3 linked regions of the Homo sapiens genome follow. The protein of the gene in region 1 purifies or fractionates together with the protein of each later gene. This does not show direct contact. Each region holds a gene or a part of one and is shown on either strand. Other genes may lie near its edges.

Region 1 (3,654 bases):
CATGAACTTATTGAGGATCCACTGAGCAGCACAGGGTCTTAACGTGCTGGTCTGTAGGTGCCTTGATTAGCTTCAGTTATTCACAGTGATTGAGAGAGAACAAGGTATAATATCAGAAGGCACATACAAGTTCTAGTTGCCTTATGAATTATGAATTCTGTTGTTGATGAATATCGCTTAAGGATTTCCTTAAATCACCTTGGTCTTTGCCTACAGCTAGAGGAAAAAAGAATAACTTGAGAATGGTCTACATTCCTTAAGCTTTATAACCAGGTTTTCTTTGTATGAAGTGTAACCTGACACAAATCTACAGTTAACTTTGTGAGACATTATGTGGAAAAATTAGATCAATCTATATAATCTTCTGCTAATATGCTAAAGCTATCTACCAATGCACTGACAGTACAAATTTAAAACATTTTATATTTTGTTTTTTTTTACCTTGTATCCTGTTATTAGACCTGGATCACATACAGCAGCTGAGAGGAGCCTCACAAGCAAGTCTTGTACTTCACCCATGCTGTCCCCTATATTTAGCAATCCCTCTTGAAGAACACTCAGGTTTGGAACATCAATATTCACATCAAAGCCCAAAACTTTACCAAAGTTTCGTAAGAACTGCACCACCATGAGACAGTCTGAAAATGTACTTCCAGAGAGAACAAGTCCTGGAATACGAGGCAACTCTGGCAAAGGCTGAAAATAAAATGAAATACAAATAAAATAAAAACAGCTTAATTTTTTAAAAGCCATGATTTCGTATCTTCTAAAGTAAAATAAGCTGCTACCTTTTTTCCCCTCTTGTATTGTACCAGTAGCTTCCTTTGGGATGCTAAATTCTCTGGGGGCATTTCTGTAACCCCCATGGAACTAAGCATAGTGTCTTGAAGTATCTTCATACAAGTAAGCAACCATTAATAAATTTTGGTTGAACTCAATTATGAACTTAGATCTTTGCAAAAGAGACATTAATTTTAATCAACTTGCATATTCAATCAACTGACATATCCATATTAACAAAACATGGATTATATAACTGGAGCAAAAATTAAATAAAATATAAACATTTCAAAAGTACTTTACCATGGACATACTTATAGGGGCATGTGCACCAATTTCTTCTAATGATGATGACATTTAAAAATCACACTTTTTTTGTAGCTTAGAAACAAACAGCATGCATCTGTGGGCTCTATGGTTGGAGAAAGTGGTACCATCTATGGCTAATGAATGCAGATAAATAACTAGGTCCACATAACTAGAATCCATGACCCTGTACATAAACCCAGTTATAATGCAACTAAAGGTCTTTAGGTTTCCCTGTATTTAGGCAAGTATTAGCTTCAGTATTAAAATTAGCTATCTCTGTTGTTATTTCTCAAATATGCTCACATATTAACATTTTAATGACTTAATTGCAGTACCAGTTGTCATCAACATTTTAAAATTTCAATAAATAGGTAATCTGAATTAAAAACATTTTGCCTGTTAATGAGAGCCTAAAAAAGTACTTTAAATTTTAATTGGAAAAAAAGTGACATAAATATTTCTATTTATCTGAATTGGTCCTTGTTCAAAAATATTTCTCCACTCTGCATTTATTGAGGTAACCAATTGAAGACTTTTTCTGTTAATACTGTGTGGAAACACAAAACTATAGATAATAGCTCATCTCATACAAATATTTTATATTCTTCTTGAAAGCCAGTTAATTCTCATTCTCCCTTTTTCTTGAACCACAGGAAACATATACATTTCTATGTAATTCTAAAAATTTATGTAGCAAAGCTGAGCTATTAAAAATATGGCTTAAAATGGACTTACATATTTGATATAGTACATATGAATTTAAATGAAAATAAAAGATACAAGAAAATGAAGCTCACTTAGGATTTAAAAAGCTTGATCACTATGAGCTTATTAAATGTGTTAACTAATTTATATACCCATTCTCTGCTTAGGAAAATTTAAATATCCAAATGACTACAACTAGTAAGTATACTCTCATTTTTATTTAGAAGCATTTATGCTAAGTAAATAAATAGAATATTAATATAGTTCAATCCATTCTAGAGTACTAAAAGTTTTCTTTAAGCACTTTAGAAAAGAGCTTACATAATTGAGTTAATGGGTGCAGCACACCAGCAGGGCACATGTATACATATGTAACTAACCTGCACATTGTGCACATGTACCCTAAAACTTAAAGTATAATAATAATAAAATAAAATAAAAAAAGAGCTTACATAAATCAAGAGATAATCATTATTTGCAAATCATTTGAATATTGCATATAAGTAAATACATATCCTACTAATTAAGTATAATAATATAGAGATGAAATGCATTATTGATATTTTTCTAGAAGTACCATCTTCTTAACTATAGTCAAAACATCATTGATTTTTACTCAAAAGTATATGAAATTATGCTGGTTGCCAAGATTACAGCAATGTTTCTAAATTTATACTTTTATGTATTTCAGCAACATTACATGTCTGTGAAGCACTATGGAAGACAAAACACATATGAGGTGCTTTGGTTGGACACAGTTTCTTGGCTTTCAGGATGATAAACAGTATAGGCTCTGGAGTTTAACAAACTGGAGTTTGAATCCAAATCGCCATTTATTAGTTGTGTAATCTTGGGCAAGTTCCTTAACCTCTTTGTGTCTCAGTTTTCTCATGTATAAATGGGAAGAAATACTAACTCCACAAGATTGTATTGAGGATTAAATGAGAAAATTCAAATAAGTGCTTAGCACAGTCCTAGCATGTAGTAAACATGTTCAATAAAGGTTTGCCACCTAAAGCACTGAAGGAGGTCACAGATTATAAATCCTCATTTATTTAAATATCCATAGGGATGTGGGGAGGAGTTGAGATTTTTCTGTGCCTGGAATCCCAGAACTTTGGGAGGCTGAGGTGGCTGTATCACTTGAGCCCAGGAGTTCAAGACCAGCCAGGACAACATAAGAGTCTGCCGCTACAAAAAATTAAAATAACAAAAACCCAAAAAACTAGCCAGGCATGGTGGCAAGCGCCTGTGGTCCCAGCAACTCAGAAGACTGAGGTGAGAGGACCACTTGAGCCTGGGAACGAGAAGTTGAGGCTTCAGTGAGCTATAATCCTGCCACTGCCCTCTCTCCAGCCTAAATGACAGAGTAAGACCCTGTCTGAAAACAACCAACCAACCAACCAACCAACCAACCAACCAAACAAACAAACAAAAAAACCGCCATTACCAGCACAAGAGCTCCAGAGAGGTTTACTTCTAGCTATCTAGGAAAGGCAAATTGACCTAGAGTTGGAAATTCACTGCTATAGTTAAAAATGAAAGGCTTTCACAATAGCAGCTCTGGCAAAGAAATCAGGTAAGAAAACTGGAAAAATTAAACTTATGAATGAAATGGTGTACATGACGTATAAATTACCTTTTGGTCTGCTAAGCACATGTCTTCATTAGGCTTCTTTAGTTCCTTTGCCATTTCTAATTCTAATCTTCGCTGCTCTAGTTTACGCTCTTTATTTAATCTTTTCTCATCACGTTTTTCTTGTTTCAACCGCTCTTTTTCCTTAAAAAGAAAACCATGTACACATATTCTTCTTAATCATTATATATGTTGGAATAAACTTAGAATTATGTAGCAACATT
Region 2 (3,654 bases), on another chromosome or scaffold:
TACTAAAAATACAAAAATTAGCCGGGCATGGTGGCAGGCTCCTGTAGTCCCAGCTACTCGGGAGCCTGAGACAGGAGAATTGCTTGAACCTCGGCAGCAGAGGTTGAAATGAGCCGAGATCATGCCACTGAACTCCAGCCTGGAGACAGAGCAAGACTCCATCTCAAAAAAATAAAATTAGATAAATAAATAAATAAAAAGTGAATATTCTGCTGGATACAGAGGAGACTATGTTATAGATGCTTATGACATGTACACAAGAAGCATGTCTTTGTATGCATAGGCACAGCAGTGAAACAACATGAGAACACACACAGCCACATGTATCATGCAAGCAAGGTTGTCTCTTCTAAACCCTGCACACCGATGACACCAAAGACTGTTGCCCAGGTGTTCTTGGAAATTCTGAACCAGGTGAGAGAGGAGATGGGGGGCAGGGGAGGGAGGAGACACCAAAACACCAAGAGACTCCCAGGCAGAAAAAAAGTCTCTTGTTTTGAATGATGTTTTTAATAGTCAGTTACTAAGACAACTCTTTCTGGGAAGTCAGAGGACATGTCTCTCCCATCTCCCTACAACCATGTCGCTTGGGTTGTTAGTCTCCATGTGCACCCCCAGATCCATGACCTGCTTGAAGAAGCAGGAGGCTGGCCCATTGGACTGTCCCTTGAGCTCCCTTGCCTCCTGGTTTCTGGTTCCATTTGGCCAATAGAAGACACTGGCAGGGGCCGGGCACAGTGGCTCACGCCTGCAATCCCAGCATTTTGGGAGGCCAAGGTGGGTGGATGACTTGGGGTCAGGAGTTTGAGACCAGCCTGGCCAACAAGGTGAAACCCTGTCTCTACTAAAAATATAAAAATTAACTGGGTGTGGTGGCAGGCGCCTGTAGTCCCAGCTACTAGGGAGGCTGAGGCAGACCTGGGAGGTGGAAGTTGCAGTGAGCCAAGATCATGCTACTGCACTCTAGCCTGGACGACAGAGACTCTGTCTTAAAAAAAAAATAATAAAGAAGAAGGCACTGGCAGGAATTCAGAAGGTGGAAGGAGAGAGATCCTGGGTGTATCTTCCCCAATTTCTCTCTCTGTGGTCCTGGTGGTGGCTGAGCCCCTCTGCGACAGCTCCCTGCCCACCTCTACCAGTCACGGAACTCAGGTAACACCACTCCCTCCTGCTCATTCAGGCCGAGAGCTAGTAATGCCTTCTGTCACTGTTAGTTTGTGGGTGCCTCACCATCCCATGTGGGTTCCCCTCACCCTGCTCACATCTTTATTAACATCTCCTCAGGTGAAGCATCTGAGTGGAATTCTGTTTCCTGTCAGAATCTGACTGATCCACCACCTGATGCTCACTTAGGATAAGGGGAGCCTGAGAAGAGGCAGAATAAGCTAAGAAGTCAAGGAAGGCAAGGGAACCGTCAGGAAGCCCCTTAACCTCTTTGTGCCTCAGTTTCTTCATCTGTAAAGTCATGATGATAAACTTACATACCTCACAGGCTTACTGTGAAAATGGAATCAGATCATGCCTGTAAAACACTAAACACATACCAGAATATTAGAAATATTTGCTCCAGAAATATTACTCTCCAATTAAGTCCAAAGACTAAAATGTTAACAATAGCCTTCCCTTGGAGAAGGAAATAGGGGCCTTTTTCTCCGTATTTTTCAATTTTCTACTATGAGCATGTATTACTTTCGGAGTCAGAAAAGAAAAAAGAAGAATTACAAGAAAAAAAAAAAAAAACAGAAAGAGTGCCTATTAGGGCTTATTCTTTCTCTCACTTGCTGGAGATGATGTGACTTCCTTCCCAAGGGGACTTCCCCAGTATGGAACACTCACTTCCCTGAGTGATAATGTCTACATGGACGTGAATGAAAGGATGGAGGGTACAGGCTGAGAGAGCTGCCTCTGAGACCTCAAGCCACTTTCACAGCCAGGCAAGAAGGATCAAAAAGGGAGCTGAGTCTGCAGTCATCCTGTCTGGTGCTTGGATTTGTACATGGCAGTGGGGAGACGGCAATTCGTCAGAGGTTTGCAGTACCCACGGACACCACTTTAGACCAAACAATGTGAAAAGGCCACCACCCATCAGCCTTGGCTTCTTGCCCAAAAGCTTCACGGGCCACTAGGGAGCCTCAGGCTGATGTGCAGTGGTGGGCTGGGGACCACGTGACAGCACAGAACTGCAGAGTAACAGCATTAAAACGGAGACATGCGTCCCACCTGGCCCATCCTGATGACGATGCAGAAGGCAGAGAGAGACCTCCCGTTAGCAGGGTATCCTCCGAGAGCTGGGCAACATGCTGGCTGTCTTTTGGGCTTTATCTTATTTGAGCTGCACAAGGGCCACACGGAGTAGGTGAGCTTATTTCCCAGGCGGCTTAGTGGCCAAGGCCACATGGCTAGTCAGTTTCAAGGAGAGCCAGGACTAGGACTCAAGTCTGCTGGCTCACAGTCCAGTGCTCTCCCCACTCAATGCTGCTACATCCCACGACCTCCAACTTGCTGTAAGCCATATAACCAAAGCTACTGTTGCTCTGGATGTAGAAATAATAACGGCAGTATCAATCCCTCCCACATGCAGGGCACTTTACAACTTAAAGGATCTTTTTATAATCATTTTGCTTGGACCTCACCAATTAGCCACTGTTGAGAGTGGGCAGGAAACAGCAGTTACAGACATGGGCTTATGAGCCAGAGCTGGAATCCTGATGCCACAGGCTTGGTGACCTTGGGCAGGTTACTTAACCTCTATTGAGAAGACTATCCCCTGCACCTCCAAGGTGTATAGTGAGAATTAAATGAGATAGGCAGGGTGTGGTGGCTCACGCCTGTAATCTCAGCACTTTGGAAGGCCAAGGAGGGAGGATTGCTTGAGCCCAGGAGTTTGAGAGCAGTCTGGGCAACAGAGCGAGACACTGTCTTTACCCTGTGCCCCCCCCAAATTAGCCGGGCATGGTGGGGTGCACCTGTAGTCCCAGCTACTCAGGAGGCTGAGGCAGGAGGATCACTAGAGCCTGGGAGTTTGAGGTCACAGTGAGCTGTGACTATGCCACTGCACTCCAGCCTGGGTGACAGAGTGACAGGCTGTCTTTAAAAAAACAAGAATAACGACTGGGCCTGTAATCCCAGCACTTTGGGAGGCTGAGGCAGGCAGATCACCTGAGGTCAGGAGTTCGAGACCAGCCTGGCCAACACAGTGATAACCTGTCTCTACTAAAAATACAAGAACTAGCCAGGCAGGTGGCACGTGCCTGTAATCCCAGCTACTTGGGAGGCCAAGGCAGGAGAATTGCTTGAACCGGGGAGGCGGAGGTTGCAGTGAGCTGAGATCCTGCCACTGCACTCCAGCCTGGGCAACACAGCAAGACTCCATCTCAAAAACAAAACAAAAAAACCCAAAAAACAAACAAACAAAAAAATAAGAAGAATAAAATAAAAAGAAAAAATAGAAAAACAGATAATGCACATGAAGCTTGCTCTAGCACAGTATTTGACATATAGAAGACACTCAGTGGCAGCAATGGCTCTGATCACCACCAGACAGATGGACAAACTGAGGTACAGAGAAGGTAGAAAGCTTGTCCAAGGACAGTCTGGGTGTGGGCAGCTGCACAGCCCAAGCAGCAGCTTAGAGCATCCTAAGAGAATTTGAAA
Region 3 (3,654 bases), on another chromosome or scaffold:
GGAGTGTTTATTACATTACTATACCATGACACTGAAAATATTTTGAGACAAGATGATACTGTATTTTAAGATTTAAGTTATTTCTGGATACAACTTGGAAATTCTTAAGAGTTCAGTTTATGGTATATATATCATAGTTAATTTATATTTCAATATTTGGGATATGTTATATATTTGATGCTTAATTTTGTTACTATTTTATTTAATAAAATGATGTTTTGGAAAGAGGATTTGCTTTATGATTATGACTCTTTAAGAAGGGTATTTCTTATTGGGGAATTTACTGTCTGTCAGATAATTTTTCTTCCCTTCAAACTATTTGAAAATACATTTTCAAATTCTGCTGCTTATTAGCTGTGCAAGGTTGGGCAAATTACTTACCCTCTCTGTGCTTCAGTATCATGTAGTTACAATGGAGATGATACTTGTAATTACGTCATAGGTTTCTTAAGAGAATTGAATGGATTAATGTTTCAAGTGCTAAGAATGTTGTTCAAAGTAAGTATTTGTTAAATAACTTTGAAGGAATGAAAAGGAAAGTCCTTACTTTTCTTTTGTTTTGCAAATTAGAAAGCCGACCGAGCAAAGAGATTTGAATTTTTACTGAAGCAGACAGAACTTTTTGCACATTTCATTCAGCCTTCAGCACAGAAATCTCCAACATCTCCACTGAACATGAAATTGGGACGTCCCCGAATAAAGAAAGATGAAAAGCAGAGCTTAATTTCTGCTGGAGAGTATGTTGGCACCTCTCTCTCTACTTTCTTTCCTTTCTCCTACCTTTTCTTCCTCCTGTCCTCCCTTGATCCCTTCATGCACCCCTTCGCTCTTCATTGTTCAGTATACCTTCATGTGACAAAAAATATTGCCATTATAATTATGTTTTGAAGACAACTATATTTTTTTCTCACTAGAGGCTGATCAGTAAAAATGTAGGCTGGTTCTACTGATTTCTAAGCAAGACCTTGGACAACTCATTCTTTTTCTATAAAAGATAATAGCCATGTACACTGATTTAATTGATACCTTATCATTTAGGTCGAATATGAAGGGATTTCCTTTTTTAATTTCAGCTACCGCCATAGGCGCACAGAGCAAGAAGAAGATGAAGAGCTACTGTCTGAGAGTCGGAAAACATCTAATGTGTGTATTAGATTTGAGGTGTCACCTTCATGTAAGTACTTCATCACATTGGTGAGTTCTTTTTCAATTTAGTTTTAGAAAAATTTTACTTGAGTATGTTAATGAAAGTATGAAATGTCCTTGCATTTTTTCACCAGATGTGAAAGGGGGGCCACTGAGAGATTATCAGATTCGAGGACTGAATTGGTTGATCTCTTTATATGAAAATGGAGTCAATGGCATTTTGGCTGATGAAATGGTAAGGAATTGGTAGCTAAAAACACATTCTCAGTTATCAATGATTTTTATGTAAATTTGAAAAACCTGAGCTTACCTGCCCCCCTGATGCCTGGAGGCTTTTTAAAAGTTGTTATCATGTAAAAGGTATTTTGTAGTCTTAGAATTATTATTATTTTTTTGAGAGAGGATCTCTTTGTGTTTCCAGGCTTGAGTGCAGTGGTGCAATCTCGGCTCACTGTACCCTCGACTTCCTGGGTTCAAGCGATCCTCCTGCCTCAGCCTCCTGAGTAGCTGCGACTCCAGGCACGTGCCCACCACACTGGGCTAATTTTTATTTTTATTTTTAGTAGAGACAGGTCTCGCCACGTCACCCACACTGATTTTGAACTCCTGGGCTCAAGCAGTCCTCCCACCTCGACCTCCCGAAGTGTTGGGATTACAGGTGTGAGCCACAGCACCCAGCTAGAATTGTTTCGTTAAGTCACCGCTAGAACACAGACTTTCACAGGCCATAAAACTCTTACTGAGCTTTCCTCAAATGGTCCAAAAACCTTCTCTGTACTTTTGTTTTTGTTTGCATTTTGGCTTCCAGGAAGCACAGAGTCAAGATGGATGCCCAAATGATGCCTTTATGTAACTTTTTTTTTAAAATTTTTTGAGATGGAGTCTCGCTCTGTCACCCAGACTGGAGTGCAGTGGCACGATCTCAGCTCACTGCCACCTCCACCTCCCAGGTTCAAGCAATTCTCTGTCTCAGTCTCCTGAATAGCTGGGGTTACAGGCGCCTGCCACCACGTCCGGCTAATTTTTTTGTATTTTTAGTAGAGATGGGGTTTCACCGTTTTGGCCAGGCTGGTCTTGAACTCCTGACCTTGTGATCCACCTGCTTCGGCCTCCCAGAGTGCTGGGATTACAGGTGTGAGCCACCCCCACCCTGGCCTTATGTAACCTTTAATGGTCTGCCCTGTGTGTCCTTCTGTCTTTTCCTATTCTTTATCTACTTGTCTTTCTTACTTTCCTTGTCGTCTCTTTATTTCTATTTTGCCATTAATTTATGTTCCATGTTTTCATTGTAGGCTACCTGAAATCCTTTTGGGAATAAGGTGGGGTATACAAACCAAACAATATGTAAATGACTGCCTGAATATATGCATGTGTGAATGATTATCAATATTTTGACTTGTGAACAATCAAAAAGTGCATAGGTGGAATAAGGAACGAATAAAGAGTAATGTTGAATCTTGATACAGTACAGTGCATGGTGGGGCTTTGGAAATCAGTGAAGGAGTTATAAATGTGTAAATAAAATAACTGAACAGGAAAAAGTAAGGCATATAAGATGCTAATTCATCAGCTAAAGGGGGAATACATGAAGGCTTTTTTTTTTTTGAGACGGAGTCTCGCTCTGTCGCCCAGGCTGGAGTGCAGTGGCATGATCTCGGCTCACTGCAATCTCCTCCTTCTGGGTTCATGCCATTCTCCTGCCTCAGCCTCCCGAGTAGCTGGGACTACAGGCGCCCGCCACCGCGCCCAGCTAATTTTTTGTATTTTTTTAGTAGAGACGGGGTTTCACGATGGTCTCGATCTCCTGACCTCGTGATCCTCCCGCCTTGGCCTCCCAAAGTGCTGGGATTACAGGCGTGAGCCACTGTGCCTGGCCCCATATTTGTATTTTAAGACCAAATTAATAAAATGCGATTTAAGAGAGGGCAGGGAAAGTTCTAAATCCATATAACTCAATGATACTCATATTTATGTGACTCTGAAACCATACTTGTAATCACTATTATCCAGAAGAGCCACATGATGATACGTGCCCTATGGCGTCTAGTATAGTTGGTAGTCAGTCGCATAAGTACTCATCCCTGGTTGAGCAACTGTTAGGTGTGTGGCAGAGGATCCCTTAAAGCAAGGGTCTGTAGCTCCTTATATTTAGGTATTCTAGTTTGAAGACTGTTGTCAGCTCAGAGGGGGAGGAGCTTGGTTAATTGGACAATGGAAGGACCAGGATTATTTGCCCCAAGCAGCTCTTGGCTTCAGCCTGTCTAAACATGAAGGATCTGATCTTTAGTGATGAATTTGTGCTGATATCAGATATATGTATTATATATATAATATATAATATATAAATATATATAATATATACTTACTTTTTTTAATATATATATATAATTTTTTTTTGAGATGGAGTTTTGCTCTTGTTGTCCAGGCTGGAGTGCAATGGCGTGATCATTGCTTACTGCAACCTCCACCTCCCGGGTTCAAGCGGTTCTCCTCCCCCAGCCTCCCAGG

What was found.
Region 2: the proteins of BAZ2B (region 1) and EPB41L1 purify together in Homo sapiens (co-immunoprecipitation; one large-scale study listed by IntAct). This does not show direct contact.
Region 3: the proteins of BAZ2B (region 1) and SMARCA1 purify together in Homo sapiens (co-immunoprecipitation; one study listed by IntAct). This does not show direct contact.

Annotation. Positions count from the first base shown.
Region 1 is NC_000002.12:159,385,912-159,389,565, forward strand, and holds part of BAZ2B (bromodomain adjacent to zinc finger domain protein 2B), read right to left. Parts: intron 3,575-3,654; coding exon 3,434-3,574; intron 697-3,433; coding exon 442-696; intron 1-441. UniProt on the Homo sapiens protein: Regulatory subunit of the ATP-dependent BRF-1 and BRF-5 ISWI chromatin remodeling complexes, which form ordered nucleosome arrays on chromatin and facilitate access to DNA during DNA-templated processes such as DNA replication, transcription, and repair.
Region 2 is NC_000020.11:36,161,216-36,164,869, reverse strand, and holds part of EPB41L1 (band 4.1-like protein 1), read right to left. Parts: intron 1-3,654. UniProt on the Homo sapiens protein: May function to confer stability and plasticity to neuronal membrane via multiple interactions, including the spectrin-actin-based cytoskeleton, integral membrane channels and membrane-associated guanylate kinases.
Region 3 is NC_000023.11:129,513,414-129,517,067, reverse strand, and holds part of SMARCA1 (SWI/SNF-related matrix-associated actin-dependent regulator of chromatin subfamily A member 1), read left to right. Parts: intron 1-570; coding exon 571-737; intron 738-1,073; coding exon 1,074-1,174; intron 1,175-1,280; coding exon 1,281-1,381; intron 1,382-3,654.